Linked DNA regions of Homo sapiens: all the other regions are linked to region 3. Evidence: fine-mapped expression QTL. A gene starts in region 3. Each other region holds a variant in brackets. All regions are shown on one strand. Distances are from middle to middle.

Evidence for each region. PIP is the estimated chance that this variant, and not a neighbour inherited with it, causes the effect.
Region 1: its variant is the best candidate, but not a certain one, in a credible set for the expression of EYA2 in sun-exposed skin (GTEx, PIP 0.58).
Region 2: its variant is the best candidate, but not a certain one, in a credible set for the expression of EYA2 in lung (GTEx, PIP 0.87).

Annotation. Positions count from the first base shown.
Region 1 is chr20:46,963,799-46,969,022 of GRCh38, reverse strand. All of the region lies in intron 1 of EYA2 (EYA transcriptional coactivator and phosphatase 2), which reads right to left. Among named protein-coding and RNA genes, the nearest start is that of EYA2-AS1, 65 kb to the right of the region's middle. The variant G/A (reference allele first, on the strand shown) is at 2,790.
Region 2 is chr20:46,945,704-46,950,927 of GRCh38, reverse strand. All of the region lies in intron 1 of EYA2 (EYA transcriptional coactivator and phosphatase 2), which reads right to left. Among named protein-coding and RNA genes, the nearest start is that of EYA2-AS1, 47 kb to the right of the region's middle. RefSeq lists an enhancer at 5,043-5,224. The variant T/A (reference allele first, on the strand shown) is at 2,590.
Region 3 is chr20:46,892,794-46,898,017 of GRCh38, reverse strand. EYA2 (EYA transcriptional coactivator and phosphatase 2) reads right to left here and starts at 3,175. Exons shown (of 16, transcript NM_005244.5): 1 at 3,031-3,175.

The sequences.
Region 1 (5,224 bases), 71 kb before region 3:
CAAATCATCACACCGAGCAAGTGCTCATTATGCACTCAGCACTGTTAGCTGCTTTCCATACACTGGTTGATTTAATCCTTAAAATAACCCATGAGATACGTAATACTGTCCCCTCATTTTACAGAAGAGGAAAGAGAGGTTCAGAAACGTTAACCTGAACAAGGACACAGAGCGACCCAGGTGACTGGCAGGAAAACATCTTTTAGCGTAGAGGTTCTTAGTGGGGTCGGTGGGGGGCGCGGCGGGGTGGGATTTTGCTGCCCAGAGGACACCTGGCAATGTCTGGATATATTTTTGGTTATCACCAATGGGGAGGGTGCTATTGGCATCCGGTGGGTAGAAGTCAGGAATGCTACTAAAATCCCGTAACACACAGGACAGCTCCACAACAATCATCCAACCCAAAATGTCAAAAGTGCTGAGCATGAGAAACCTGTTTTAGAGGAATGATGTTCTGGGGGGTGGTGAAGGGGAGGGGAATGAGCTTTCCAAACCAACATGTTTAAACACGGAGGGGGCAGTATAGGGTGACGGTTAAAAGATACAGCCGCAACCCTTGGGCGTGAGTCCCTGCTCATCTGTACAATGGGGATAAGAAAGGCGCCAACCTCAGAGAGTTGCTGTGAGGATGACGTGAGACAAAGGGCTTTGAGGAACACCTGGAGCACAGTAAGTGCCAGGTAAATGTTTGCCATTCTTGGGTTCATCCCACACAATGCATGTTACAGTAAAAGGTGCAGATATGAATGATCACAATTGCTAAGATGTCTGGTGATGGCGGTTCAGGTGGGTTAACAAGATCAGGGCCCTAGATGGGCACCTTCGCCTGTCTCTTGTCCTCCCCCTAGGGTCACAGGACATCAGAAGCCACATTTCTAAGAAACACAACTGGACATGGCCCTACTCTAAGCAGGAAGGAAGAAAGTGGGAAAAGAGGCTCCATTCATGTGGCGCCTTCATTTTATCTCAGAGGAATATCTCCATCAGCATCCTCCAGCAGCCATCCCCCATATCTCATCCAGACCAATCACAAGGGGCTTGGTCTAACCACCCTTCATCTCCTTGGGCAGAGCCCATGGTCAGCCAGATAAGATCGAGCTTCTGTTGGCCTGCAAGGAGGGATGATGGCTGCTGTCTATGCCACCACCAGGGGTTGTCCTGGAGGCCTCCAATACACAAGGTCAAGCCAATCATCCCGATCTGTGATGTAACTGCAAGCAGCAGCTGTCTCTCCAAGTGCCAATTGTCATTGTGAGTGCAGCACTGCTGTGCACCAGGAGCCATGTGAGCTGCTTCACATGGCCTGGCTCCTGCTAACCTCTCCTGTTGCATCCCTTCCTACTCAACTCTCTGGTGATACCAGCATTTTACCTGGTATCCCTTAAAAGCAGCAAGCTCCTTGGCACCTTGGGGTCTGCTCACAGCTGTTCCCTCTGTCCTGAATGCTCATCCTTCCCCTTCACCCCACTTTAGGTTTCTGCATAAAAATCACAAAGTCACTGCTTCCAGGAAGCCTTCCCTGATACCATTACTGCTATCACCATCCTCCCTGACTGGATTAATTTCCACTGCACTCTGAACTTGTCAATCATGACATTTACTACCATTGGAATTAACAGCTGAGTATTTAATTGTATAATGCTTATCTCTCTCTTTAGACTCTAATCAGTAGCCATGAGCCACAGGTGACTTGAAATGTGGCTAGTTTAAATTGAGATGTGGGCCAGGTGCAGTGGCTCCAGCTTGTAATCCCAACACTTCGGGAGGCCGAGGTGGGCGGATCACTTGAGGTCAGCAGTTCGAGACCAGCCTGACCAACATGGTGAAACCCCATCTCAACTAAAAACAAAACAAAACAAAAATTAGCTGGATGTGGTGGTGTGTGCCTGTAGTCCCAGCTACTTGGGTGTCTGAGGCACGAGAATCACTTGAACCTTGGGAGGTGGACGTTGCAGTGAGCTGAGATTTCGTCACTGCACTCCAGCATGGGTGACAGAGTAAGACTCTGTCCCCAAAACAAAAACAAACACAAACAAACAAAAAACAAATTGAGATGTGTCCAAACACACACCAGATCTCAAAGACTTGATACAAAAAAAGTAAAATAATGCATTAGTAATCTTAAAAGTATGGATGATGTATTGAAATGATAATATTTTTTGACATCTTGAGTTAAATAAAATGTACTGTTTCACAGTTTTTTTTTTTGAGATGGAGTCTCGCTCTGTCGCCCAGGCTGGAGTGCAGTGGCACAATATGATACCGACTCACTGCAAGGTCCGCCTCCCAGGTTGACACCATTCTCCTGCCTCAGCCTCCTAAGTAGCTGGGACTACAGGCACCCACCACCATGCCCGGCTAATTTTTTTTGTATTTTGAGTAGAGACAGGGTTTCACCGTGTTAGCCAGGACGGTCTCGATGTCCTGACCTCGTGATCCGCCCACCTCGGCCTCCCAAAGTACTGGGATTACAGGTGTGAGCCACCGCGCCAGGCCTGCTGTTTTACATATTTTTTTTAACAAGGCTACTAGAAAATTTGCAGTTACATATGTGGCTCACACTGGTAAAGCATGTTATATTTTTCTCGGACAGTGTTGCTGGAGACCTTAACATGCTCCATGAGAACAGAGGCTGTAGCTAGATTGTTCCTGCTCTATCCCTGTGCTTAGAACAGCACCTGCCACAGAATATGTGATGAATAGTATTTTGCTGAATTAACAAATGAATGAACGGTATGCTGGGCACAGTGGCTCATCCCTGTAATCCCAGCACTTTGGGATGCGGAGGC[G/A]GCAGGATCACGTGAACCCAGGAGCTCAAGGCTATGATGCCACCACTGCACTCCAGCCTGAGTAACAGAGGGATATCCCATCCCAAAAAAGAAAAAGAAAAAAAGACTGTAAGAGGTTGCCTCGTTCATATCCTGGTTGTTAAGAACAGTTTATACTCATGCTGCATTTTAAAGTTCTCCAAAGAATCACCAGGTGCTACATTCATGGAATTTCAAGTTTTCACTTGCCAGTCCCAGCCGCCATGGGCACCAGCTTTCTCTCCAGACACTGGATTCCGTGAACACAGCCAGCTCTGCTGCCCTCTTAGCTGACTCCACACCCCAAGAGAGAAGACAGGGCTTGAGCGAAGCATCCGCGACAGCCAGGTAGCCAGAAGGTCCCACAAAAGTCAACAGACGTGGGCTCAGGAAGTTTGTCAACCTTGACCAGACAAACACATTCTAAAGGGCCACTCGTACGTGCAGGGAACAGCCCGGCGGACGGGAGCCAAGGCAAGCAAGGCTGCGCCAACCCCAGAGGAGTCAGGAGGCCAAGACTCAGAGCGTCTAGGAGGCTGAACAAGCGTGGGCCTGAACCAACCAGGTGGGGTCACCTGTCTCCAACCTACGCCCAGGCAAACAGTTCTGCACGCTGGGAAGAAGGCACGCTTAGGTCAGACTCAGGAGCTATGAGGCGTGAGGCCCAGGCCCTGGCACCTGGTGGCCACTGCGGGGCTGGGACCTTCCAGCTCTCTCAGAGGCTTCCCTCCAACCCCCCACCTTTGCCCAAGGCTGTGGATGGGTCTCTGTGCCCTGGGGTGCCTGGTGACTCTGGCGGCCTGCCTGGGCTGGAAGCTCTAACTTGGGAACACTGCTGGTGGGCAGACATGGAGAGAAGGGATTAAGGATTCGAAGAGCCAGAGAAAAACCTAACTTGACTGTTTAAAGCCCTTTTTACACTGGGCTGTAGTTGCTCAGTAGCAAGCTGGCTGTGGGTTTGAACTCCAGCCTTGGCCCTTGTATTCCTGTATGACCTTGAGCAGTGGGATCAATGGCTCATGCTTAGGGTTCACCAAGGTCGGGCTCAGTTCTAAGTACTGGACATAGAGCACCTAATTACAAGAGCCAGCGCTGGTACCACACTCCTGCGATGCAGGCAGTTAAGTGTCAGAGGCGGATTCGAACCCTGGCAGTTCCACCGTCTGTTCACAAGTTACGTGAATTTGAATCCAACTCTACAAGTTGGGCGTCTAGTGGCACAACTCACTCTCATTTATCTAGCACGTCCTAAGCTCCAGGCCCTTACTGCCCTGAATGTATTACTCACTGACCGTCCCTTACTAAATCCTCACGAGAGTACTCAGTGTATTATCCCCTAAATTCAAACCCAAGCAGCTTGGCTCCCACATGACTGCAGCAGATGCTGGGGCACACAGACTCTAGAGCCGCACTGCCCGGCTGGAGTGCCAGCTACACAGCTTGATGATCGCTGTGACCTTGGGCAAGTAACATCCTTTCTTGGTCTCAGTTTCCTCATCTGTGAAACGGGAATCCTAACAGTACTTACCAATGGGGTTGTTCTGAGGGCATTACATGAGTTTTGAAAGCATTTAGCAGAGTGTCTGGCAAACAGGAAGTGTTAAAATCAGAGTCTATTATCTGCCATGCCTGGGATACCTGCGTCACAGGACAGGTGACAAGTAGGTGGTCATCCCAGGGAGGGGTTGGAGGCAAAGCTTGAAATGTTGCCTTTCAACCTCCCAGGATCCTCCCATGTTGCAGACACGTGCATCCCTTCAACAGCCACCTGCGGACCTCTGTGTGCCAGGTGCTACTTGGTTCTCTTTGTCACACCCCAGTGACTGCCTCCAACAGCCTGCCAAGACGCCTCCCAGCCTCCACTGCCCACCTCCTCCAAATCTGTTCTCCACACTCCTGGAGTGAGATTTTTAAACATACATCTGACCTTGTCATGCCCCCCACTAAAACCTCTTTAATTGCTCCCCACTGCCCCTTGGGCTAAATTCCAAACTTTCACAGGGACTAAAAACAGTGGCTTTCGAATTCTTCAACCAAGACTCACAGTAAGAAACCTGTTTTGCAATGCAGTGCAGTGTACACCTTTATAAAACTTCAAATAAAAGTTTCAAAAAACCACACTGACCTCATGTGCAACACACTCTGGTATTTTCGATTCTATTACTTTTCTTCCTGCGATGCTGGCTGTGGCTCACCAAATTGATTTCATAACCCGCTGATGTGTTAAGATCTGCAGTCTGAGCCACAATGGCTCAAGAGCTCTAAGACCAAGGACCCGAAGCCTGTGGGCCTCATCTCTCTCTGTCTCCTCCTGGCAGCCCGTGTTCCCATCATGCTGAACATCCTGCACCATAGTACCTCTTGCCACTGGGACTTCGCATGTGCAGCTGCTTCTGCCTAGAGCACTTTTCCTGCTT
Region 2 (5,224 bases), 53 kb before region 3:
GGAGTAACCTGCTGGATCACACACCCTCTGTTACTTTCCTTCGCTTCATGCCTTCCTTCTTTATTCCCATTCTGGTGTTTCTTGGAGTCACCTCTTAAATGAACTATTGGCACTGGAGCCCTGATCTTGAGGTCAGCTTCTTGGGAACCCACACAAAGACACCATGCCTCTCAACACACATAAAGCTAGTGCCTGCTCGCTGGGGCCTCTGCTAAAGCTGTGCAGCAAGCCAAACTACTCCAGACTCTGCACAGTGACAGAAACAACCAACACGGCAGAGGCAATTTGAGTACGACCTCCGCCTTCTGAATTTCAAGGAAGCGCATGTGCCTGCTTAATGTTCCATTACTCCTAGAAACCTAGCTGCAAGGGAGTTTGGGCTTTCCTGCCCCTTGGTGGAGGAGCACCCAGAAGGAGGAGCAGGGAACAGATGCTGCAGAGTGACTCCTCATGATTTCCCCACAGCTCCAGCACCCCAAACCATGTGCAATCTTGGAAACTCAGTGCCCAGCCATGAGACCTCCAAACTCACAGGCATCATCAAGTCACAGACTCTTAGAATATCAGGGCTAGAAGGGTACTTGAGACTCCTTAGATTATTTTATGGTTGTGAAAATTGAGTCTCTGTCTGAGAGGGGAACATCGCTGCAAGGTCCCCCTGCAGATTAGTGGCAGCTGGGAAATAATAATTCAGTTCTCCCAGACTCTAGGAAAGTGATTATTTTTTATATCACTCAACTCCATGCTTCACTACATGTTATCCTGGGAGAAACCCTTGCCCTGTCCACCACCACCTTTAAACGAGCCTGGATTGATGGCTCTTTTGATTACTGGGAGCTTACTCTGTGCCAGGCACTGTGTTGAGCACTTTGCATGCACAGTGGAGAAAAACACAGGCTATGGAACCAGAATGCCAAGGTGCACACCCAGCTCCATAAATCACCTTGTGCAAGCACCTCAGCCTCTTTGTGTCATGCTATCCTTGTGCATCATAGATGCAAAATGATACTACCTACTTCATAGGGCAGTTGCAGGTGCAGAACTGGGGTTGGGACCCTTGCCAAAAGTCACACAGTGGGTAAGTGGCACAGCCAAGGGTTGCAACCAAAGCAATGTGCTTCCACTCTTAACCTCTGGGCTACACACAGACAGATACACACAAATCTTAAAATGCATACCAACCTAACAGCTACATAAAAGTATCAAGCTTTTAAGCCAATCTTGAGCAGTCCATCCATTCAATAAATATTTGGTGAGCACCTACTATGTGCCTTAGAGGGTGTGGCTCAGTTACCCCACCATCTAGCTCCATGTGCAGGCTGAGGTTAAACCCAAAACGTGGAGAAGAACAAAACAAGTCAAGAGTCAGAAAACAACTGAAATCCTGACTGCATCAGCAACCCTGATCCAGCTATACCTGAACTGAGCTCTGACCCTGGACTCTCAGTTCCTTGATCCCCTAAATTCTCTTTACTTGCTGAACCAGTTTGACTTGAGTTCTCTATTACTTTTACCTGAAAGTCTTGACTGTGAGACTAGGTTTGGCCTGACTTACTCTCACACTTAGCAGGACAGCTGTTAAAGTGTTAAACCCTCCCCACTCCCCAATCTCACTGTTAACTTCAGATTTTCCCATAAAAGGAACCGGCTCATGTATGTTTTGTATCATCTTATGAAGCACAATATAGTGTCTTTCTAAGAGGACTTAAAACATGGCCTCAACTGCCAATAGCATTTAAAGACCTTGCACTTGAGTAGGTCTTGGTATGTGGTGGCATGTCCCAGAGACACCATAGCCAAATGATCAAACACCCCATATTCTGGAGTCAGAGACTCTGCTCCAATCCCATCTCTACCAGTCTTGAGCTCCAAGACACTGGGCATATTCCTCTGAGCTGCAGTTTCCTCATCTGTACAATGCGAGTAACATTAGCACCCACCTCCTGCAATTTTTGAGAAAATTAAATGAGATAGTGCATGTATTTTCCCTGACACAATAAATAATAAATATATATGAAGAAAACAGATATACAATGACCTGGGTTTCCACAAGTATAGATTTCAACACTACATTTATGGAGCGATCATCTCAAGCTTGAATGAAGAACAGTGCTCTTAGAGAAGTGAACATAATACTTGTGTCTCTAAGTTTGGAACTGACAGTTACCTTGAAAGTAGGGTCAACCTTTTACGAATTAAACAATAATGTGTGCAGCTTTATTTTATTTTGTTTTTTTCCAGGCAACCTTACGAGAGAAACACAATAACGTATGCATCTTGAACAGAGTATTTATCACCAGAAAAACAGTTGGAGAGGATTTTCAGTGGCTTCTTTCAACAATGTTTACTCAGCACTAACCCTGTACTGGGCACCGAGGATACAGCTGATAAGAAATATTAGTCCCTCATCTTATGCAGCTTATCGTCACTTGGGGTTTTCAAACTATAGAGTCTCACCCATAGATGGGTTAATAAAATCAGTTTAGTGAGCTGTGACCAGTGTTTTTCAAAAAAGAAATAGAGTAGACCAGGGTTGGCAACCCACAGCCTATGAGCCAAACCCAGCCCACCGCCTGCTTTTATAAATAA[T/A]GTTTTACTGGAACACAGATAAGCCCATTTGTTTACATGTTGTCTCTGACTGTTTTTACGTGACAACTGCTGCACTGAATAGTTGTGACAGAGATGGTATGGCCCGCAAAGCCAAAAATAGTTAGCATTTGGCCCTTTCCAGAAAAAGTTTGCCAACTCCTGGGATAGACTAATATGGTAGTAATTTTTTTCTTTTGTTTTCTTTTTTCTTTTTCTTTTTTTTTTTTTTGAGACAAGGTCTCACTCTGCTGCCCAGGCTGGAGTGCAGATCATAGCTCACCATGGCCTTGACCTCCTGGGCTCAAGCGATCCTCCCACATCAGCCTCCTGAGTGGCTGGGACTACAGGCATGCACCACCATGCAAGGCTAGTTTTAAAACTTTTTGTAGACATGAGGTCTCACTATGTTGCCTAAGCTGGTCTGGAACTCCTAGCTTTAAGAGATCCTCCCACCTTGGCCTCTAAAAGTGCTGGGATTATAGGCAGGAGACACCATGCCCAGCCATATGGTAGTTATCTTAATGCTGTTGACCAAATATCTCAGATTCACCTTCTGGGTCCACAGTAGGGCTGCACTTCTTCACTCTATTGAAAGTTATGGTCATGTGAGCTGCTTTGACCAAAGAAATATTCAAAGAAATGGTGAGTACCACTCTTGTCAGACACTTGGAGATCAGTGTGTGATGTTCTGCTCCTTCAGGATCCCCAGTGATCCAGGGCAAACGTGGAGCAGGAGCAATAAATAAATGTCTGTTGATTTAAGGCACTCAGATTTGGGGTTACTTGTTACCACAGCATCATCAAGCTGATCCTGACTGGTGTTCATAGAAAATACGAGAGCTTATCACATATAGTAAGGCAAGCATTGTTTCTTAAAACTTTCATTTCTGTATGTGTTTTGTGTGGTTTGTGTGTGTGGTGGGGACATCTGTGTGTATGCAGTTTATTGTATGTCATTACAGGGGTGACATATAAAATATGTCCTTTATGAGGATCACAGTCCAAAGTTGTTTAAAAACAGTGGTCTGGAACTTTGGAAAAAAAAAAAAACTTAGATTCCAGAGAATAACATCTAAAATATTTGAAAGACTAGACAAGAGAACCTGGGAGAAAAGTTCTAAGATGAGTTTGGGAGGGTTAGTAATGCTCTTCATGTACATGCAAAAAAAAGTCTGCTTCTCAGCCAGCCATTCCTCAACTCTTTAGAGTAGAGGTCAGCAAGCTTTTCTGTGAAGAGCTAGATGGGAAATATTTTAGGCTTTGGGGGCCAAGAGGTCTCTGACGCCACTTCTCAGCTCTGCTGTTGTAGTGGGAAAGCAGCCATAGATAACACAGAATGAATGGGTGTGGCTGCTTTCCAATAAAACTTTATTTACAAAACAGGCAACTGGCCAGGTTTGAGCTGTTGGCCTCAGTTTGCCAACTCACGCTCTAGGGGATCAAACAAAGAAGTAGAAACAGGCCAAAACTGCAGTAAGAAGAACTGACTCTTTAGATCTATGGAAGAACTAAAAGGGAGTTCGTAGAACAAAGCCCCATCATCTACGTTGGGTGGGTGGGGAGGGGGCAGTCAGTAAACTATGGCCCATGGGCCAAATTCTGGCTGCTGTCTGGTTTTGTATATAAAGTTTTATTCAGTTATATACTGTCTATGGCGGCTTTTATGTGATAAGAGCAGAGTTGAGTAGTTACAGCAGAGGCCCCCAAAGCCAAAAATATTTATGACATGGTCCTTTACAGAAAATGTTTGCTGACCGCTGGCCTATATGGCCTTACTCATACCCAGGCTCATGTTCAAATGATGGTAATCAGGGGCTTAGGGTGGACCCAGGGTCATGTCCAGAAAAGTTCTTAGAACAAAGGGAGCCCCTCGCACAATGATATTTTTAATAAAGTAAATAGGGCAACAGCCAAAAAAAGAATCAAAGTAACCCTTGGCCCTGCACCCTGGGGAGATTTTGACCGCAGTGATGCTCAAGAAATGAGTTCACAGCTAAAACGTGCTCCATAAATGTTAAAATAACAAGAACAATAAATGGCAATAAAACACAAAGCCATGTACCTCGTCTCCACGGGCAAGACCTCCTAGGGCTTTGAGCTTAGAAGTAGGGAGGGAAGCAGCCCTCCCGCTGATGGCCAGTCTTGGCAGAGGGTCCAGCAATCCTGCAGGGATCCAATGGGTGAGGTCCAGAGGAGGAAGAAGTTCAAATATAAACAGGCACTGGAGGAGGACAACCAAGGCCACTGAGACTCTAACCCCCACTGGGAAAGGGACCCAGATCCTGAGGTCAGTACTTATTCTCAAGACCCTCGAAGAGTGCTTAGGGTTTCAGACCCTCTTGGGTTGCGAGTGTGCTCTCATCCCAGGCACACCGGATCCCACATACCAAACTGCAAGCCAGCGTGAGACAGCTCAGTGTCTTCTGCACCGTGAGACCTTGCCAGGCCCACTGTCAACAGCTGATGGCTTGATTTGATTGTCCCAGTACCTCCACCTTCTGCAGCAAAGAGCCGCAGAAGGTCTGAAAAGCTTACCCAAGCACAAAATCATCATATCAAGAGCTTGTTACAAAAGCTGACTAGGCAGATAGGAGCAATGATGCATTCCCTTCCTGTAACACGCCCAGAAGGGCCC
Region 3 (5,224 bases):
TGCCCAGGTGGGAAGCAGTTAAGTTTTTTACACTGCCCCGCACGTGACACCAATCCTTCTCCCCAAGCCTTTGCACACACACACACAGCATACACCTAAGACCTGAAGACACTGCCTAATACTTATAATTGATTCTCCCCCAAGCATCTTTGTATGAAGGAGGCCTGCCCAGCAAAGACAAAACTCTACCCCAGTCGCAACTTCCACTCCTCCGCTCTGCGATCATGTGCGTGGATACTTAGGAAAGGCATGTGTCTAAAGAAGGCACCTCCACTCCCTTCATTTTCTCCTGACAGCCACAGGCTCTCTTCTCTCTCTGCCCAGAAAGGCATCTGTCATAAGCGGCTGGGAACCTCACTTATTCACCATTACGGCCTGCGATTTTATTATACAAGGAGTTTACTGCTGGCCTAATTAGTTTCAAACTGGGCATTCCAGCTGAGGACACCTAAAAAACATCTGGTGGAAGGAGAGAGAATGAGTCCTCGCTCTGAGCTGGTTACGGTTGGATTTCTGCATAACTCTGCTCTCTTGCGCCCGATGCAAGTTGTCTTTGGAAAAGTAACTGAAAAAATAAGGAAACGGTTTCTTCTTTGTGGGAAAGGAGTCATCTTGTCACGGAGGATCCAACAACGTCTTAAAGTGGACGTGCTTGGACTGTGTATATTTTTTCACAAACGGCTGGGGTCTCCATAGCTTGCTCACCCTAATTCAAAATGTACTTAGCTACACCACAGAGCCTTTTTGCTGAGGGCTTTTCCATTCTCCCAACAGCAGCTAGCATTTTATCAATTTATCCATCTGGAACAAGGTTTGCAATCTCTTACACGCAATTTAAAGCAGAAGTAATACCACATATTTGAAACAGCGTGTCTTGGGCGTTTTTGCCAAATGGTAATCCTATAACAAGTCAACAAATCATACCTCTTTATGATGTGTTTAATGCAAAACAAAAGACATGAAAAGAAGATTCTAAAACTTACGTGATGAAAACTTTTTAAAAAAATCCTAAAGTATTGAGATACACATCTTTTTATTTTATTTTATATTTCCTTTAGTTTTTCTGATATTGGGGAAGTGATTTGTGTGTTTATAGAGTATTCTCATACACATGGTCACAACACCAGGTGAGCTATTTTAAGACAGAAAAGAAAAATGCCAATTCCTTTCAGATAAAATAGTGAATGATATTGTGAAGCTGAAGTTACAAGAGAATGGGGACATATAAACTGCTTTAAAGTAAAAAAAAGTTCAGGCTCTTTTGCATCTAACCACATTGGTCTTTTCACAATGGCAAAAGTTAAGAGTTTGCTACGAAGGCAAGGAGATTTTTTTTAATACAAACACAATTTAATGCTTAGTCAAAAGCAAGATTCAAACCACTATCATTTGTTATTTGTTATATAAATTATAGAAGAACTTACCCAAGTGTGAGAGTGTCTAAATGCAAAGATATGTAAAGGATGAAGGGGCTTAAGGTGATGAAGAAAGACAAGTGGAAAAAATGAACATTTATTTATCGAGTAAAATTGTGAAAGATTCTTTCACAAAGATTATTTTGAAAAAGAGGTTCTCTCCTCCCACTCTTTCTTTGTGTACCTCTTTTTTTTTTTGTAAGCAGGATGGTTACATGTGTATGTTAGTTGCTAACAAATGGGTCATAGTCTGGTAAGGTGCTTACTAGTTCTGTATCTATTATGGTCACAGACATTTCACTCAATCAAGAAACGGCTCATGAAATTAATAGATTCGGTTTGAAATACAATTGTCCACTGGTTATAATTTCCTTTGTAAGGGATCTCCCTAACTCAAACATAATTCAGTGCTCAAATTCTTACATGATGTTTGTAAATCATCCTCCTGCCCCTCCGCCCTCGCTAACAGCTAGATTCCAATGTTCAGCTCTTCCACTGCACCTCGTAATTAAAAGGTACCTCTTACCGGGGTGATTTATACCTCCACGTTATATTTTAAAAAGTAATTGAAGATTACATAGCATTTCGGGGAAGGGGAAAGAAAAGAAAAGGGTATCCATAAAAACGCAGCATCGGTCTTGCTTTTTAAAAAGAATTCAGACCGCGGCAGGGTGCACGCTGTCAACTCTCAGCCTCGGCTTCGGGGAAGCAGGAACCTCGCACTGCAAAAGGCGCTTCCAGTTCAACAGCTGAGAAAAGCGCACTGAGTCTTTTGCGATAGGAGTACGTTCACCAGTCACGCTTTCCTAGTATTCCTTGAGCTTATAAACTATTTATTGCTGGGGGGGAGGCAGGCAGGAATATATTGAAGGAGCCTGGGCCAGCACGGCCGTTTAACCTCCAGACTTCATGACTAAAAAACAATTCCATTTCCCACTTTCTCCCATTACAACGAAATCCTTGCCGCCTTCTAAACACCCTTCGGATGTAAACTTTTCTAAGTTTCAACTCTACCCGCAGCAGGCGCCAGGATTCCCTGCCCCGGTTCAAAGCCCCAGACCTGAACCAGAGCGGGCCGAGCGCAAACGGACTTTTGAAAAGAAATATATCAATAGCTAGAAGGCAAAGTCTCAGCGGGCCGTTCCAGCCCCAAGCCGGGATTCCAGCGGTTGGCTCTGCTTCTTGGTTATCCCATAAACACTACCTGAGGGCTTGAGTTTGCGGACTGGGGGAGCGCCCCTTATCGCGAACCGCCGGGACCATAATCGAACAAAACGCCAAGGACCCAGCCGCGTCTACACCGCCTGCGCGCCATGCACTTGTCCCGCGCGCGGGAGAGCAAACTTCAGGGTCGTTGCCCCAAAGCGCATGGGGAAACTGGGGCCCCGAGCCTGGGAGAGCCTTTCCAGAGGGGGGCTCTGCTGCTGTCCCCTCTGCCCTTGTGCCTTCCTGGCCCTGGGAGGCCCGTGCGCCCCAGAACGTCCCGACAGCTGCGGAGGCCCCGCTTGGCGAGTGCCAGAAAGAGGCGCAGGGCGAGGGGGTCCCGGTGAACAACTCCCCCCGCCCGGCGAATCCCGGCGGGCGGCCTGGGGTGGGCGCCGCTGGCGGTACTCACCGCGCGCAGTGGAGAGGGCGCCCCGACGCGGTGCGGGCGGGCGGGCGGGCCGGTGCGGGTCCGACGAGGCCGGGCTGACTGCGGCGGGCACGTTGCTGTCTCTGCCGTTGCCGCTGCCTCCGCCTCCTGGGCTGCCGCGGCTGCTGCCTGCGCCGGGAGGACCGGCCCCTTCTCCTCCCTGGGCCGGGCCCTCCCTCTGCCCCCGCCCGGGTCCCCGCGCCGCTGCGTGGGCGCGTGGGGGCGCCGAGGCGCGACGCTGGGCTACGCGGGCGCACACACCCGGCGGCTGGACGCAGGGCGCGGGGCTCTGGCCCAGCACGTGCCGCCGCGCCGCTTCCTGAGCCTGCAGCCGAGCAGAGCGCGCTCACTCTCGCCGGTCCTGGAGGCCAGGGCCCAGCCTCCTCCCCACCCACCGACACCCCGCACCTCCTCCCTCCCCGGGGCAGCACATCCTCCCTGCAACCCAGGCATGACCCCTGTGAAAGGAACGACGGCTCGGAGAGGACCTCAATAGTGACACTAACATTCGTTCACTCAACCACCCATTCATTCATTCAAAATATATTGAGCATCTACTGTGCCAGGTACCACTCCTGAGAGACTCAGCTAGAACAAGACAGACTAGTTTTCTGCCCTCCCGGAACTTGCATTCACATGGAGAGGCAAACCATAAACAAATAACCAAGTAAAGAAGCAAGACAGTTTCAGAAAGTTAGAGTTACAGGGAGAAAAATAATATATGTATCTGCTGTTGGGGAGTGGAGGAGAGGCGGTAATTTTAGCTAGAGCAGTCAGGGAAGACCTCTCTGAGGAGGTGACATCTGAATTATGAGGAAGTGCCATTGGTGTGGTATTTAGGTGAGAACGGTTCAGGGGTCTCCCCTATGTTTCACCCATTTTACAGCTAAGGAAACTGAGGTCTCAAGAGCTTAACTGGTTTAGTGAAAGTGAGAGGTATAGCCCCCTCCACCTACATGCCCAAATCAAGGCACCCCACTTACTCCATCCTCTCATAGCCACCCCCCTTTTAGTCTCCCTGGCAATGAACTGTGTTAATTGGAGTCTATGCAGCCTTTCCTAGCCCGTCACCCACTCTCTAATGTCTATGAATTCCACCGTGGGACACCCAGGATGCTTCAATCCAAAAGCAATATCAACCACTGTCATTTCTTAAGTGCAGTAAAAGACAGGGCACCCAGGTGAATTTGAATTTCAGAGAAACGAGGAATCAGTTGCAGTATATGTCTTATGCGATTGGTTGTACGTACTTATATTTAAAAAGTATTTCTTTTGTCTCCGAAATTCCAATGTAACCGGGGGTCCTATATTTTTATTTGCAACCTTAAGCTCATCCAATGCCCAACTCTTCCTTATCTCATGTAATCCCCAAGAGAGACCCCAAGGTAGCTGCTGTCAGCACACTCATTTCACAAATGAGCAGGTCCAAGCTCAAAGAAGGCAGAAAGTGGCTGAGCCAGGAATGAAATTCAGGCCTGGCTGACTCCAAAGCCGTTGCTCTTGAGCCGTAACAGTCTTCAATTCCAGTTGTAAGTTTACAGGAGCTGATGAAGGTTAAGTTCTTGGGCCCCTGACTTGCTTGGACCCCTTTCTAAGGGGACTTAGAAAAGTGTTCAGATGGTGGCTTGTTGATGTAAAGTTTACAAAAGTCCTTTGCTTTGGACATTTGGCTGCAGGCCGTAGACACCGCTGTCTTTCCACTCCGATTCCCCACCCCCAACTTGCCCTTGAGTAGGGTGGTGTCAGGTGGCTGCTGGCATTTTGGAGGAAAGTTGAGTTGGGAATTTTGTGATGTTTGTGGTAATTTTCAGCTTCTTAAAATTTGAATTTGTTGTGATTTCTTTTCTTAATTTAAAGAAATAATCATTTTCTTATCTAATCTTGGACTCATAATTTTGTACTCTTTTTCTTGAATAGGGGCTGCAAATTATACATGTATCAGGCCTCACCATTCCCAGACCCACCTCTGGTCATAGCTTACTCCGCTTTCTACTCCCCAAACTTCAGACAGAAGCAAATGTATTCAGTAAACATGGTTGTTCTCTTCTCTGGGCCTGCCGCAGTAGGCTTGGAGATGGCTCTGCTTCTGTCTTCTAGAGGCAGAATGTACATATGTACTTGGCCTTGATTTTCTCATCACTAAAGTGAAAATAACAGTACTCATCTTATACTATTA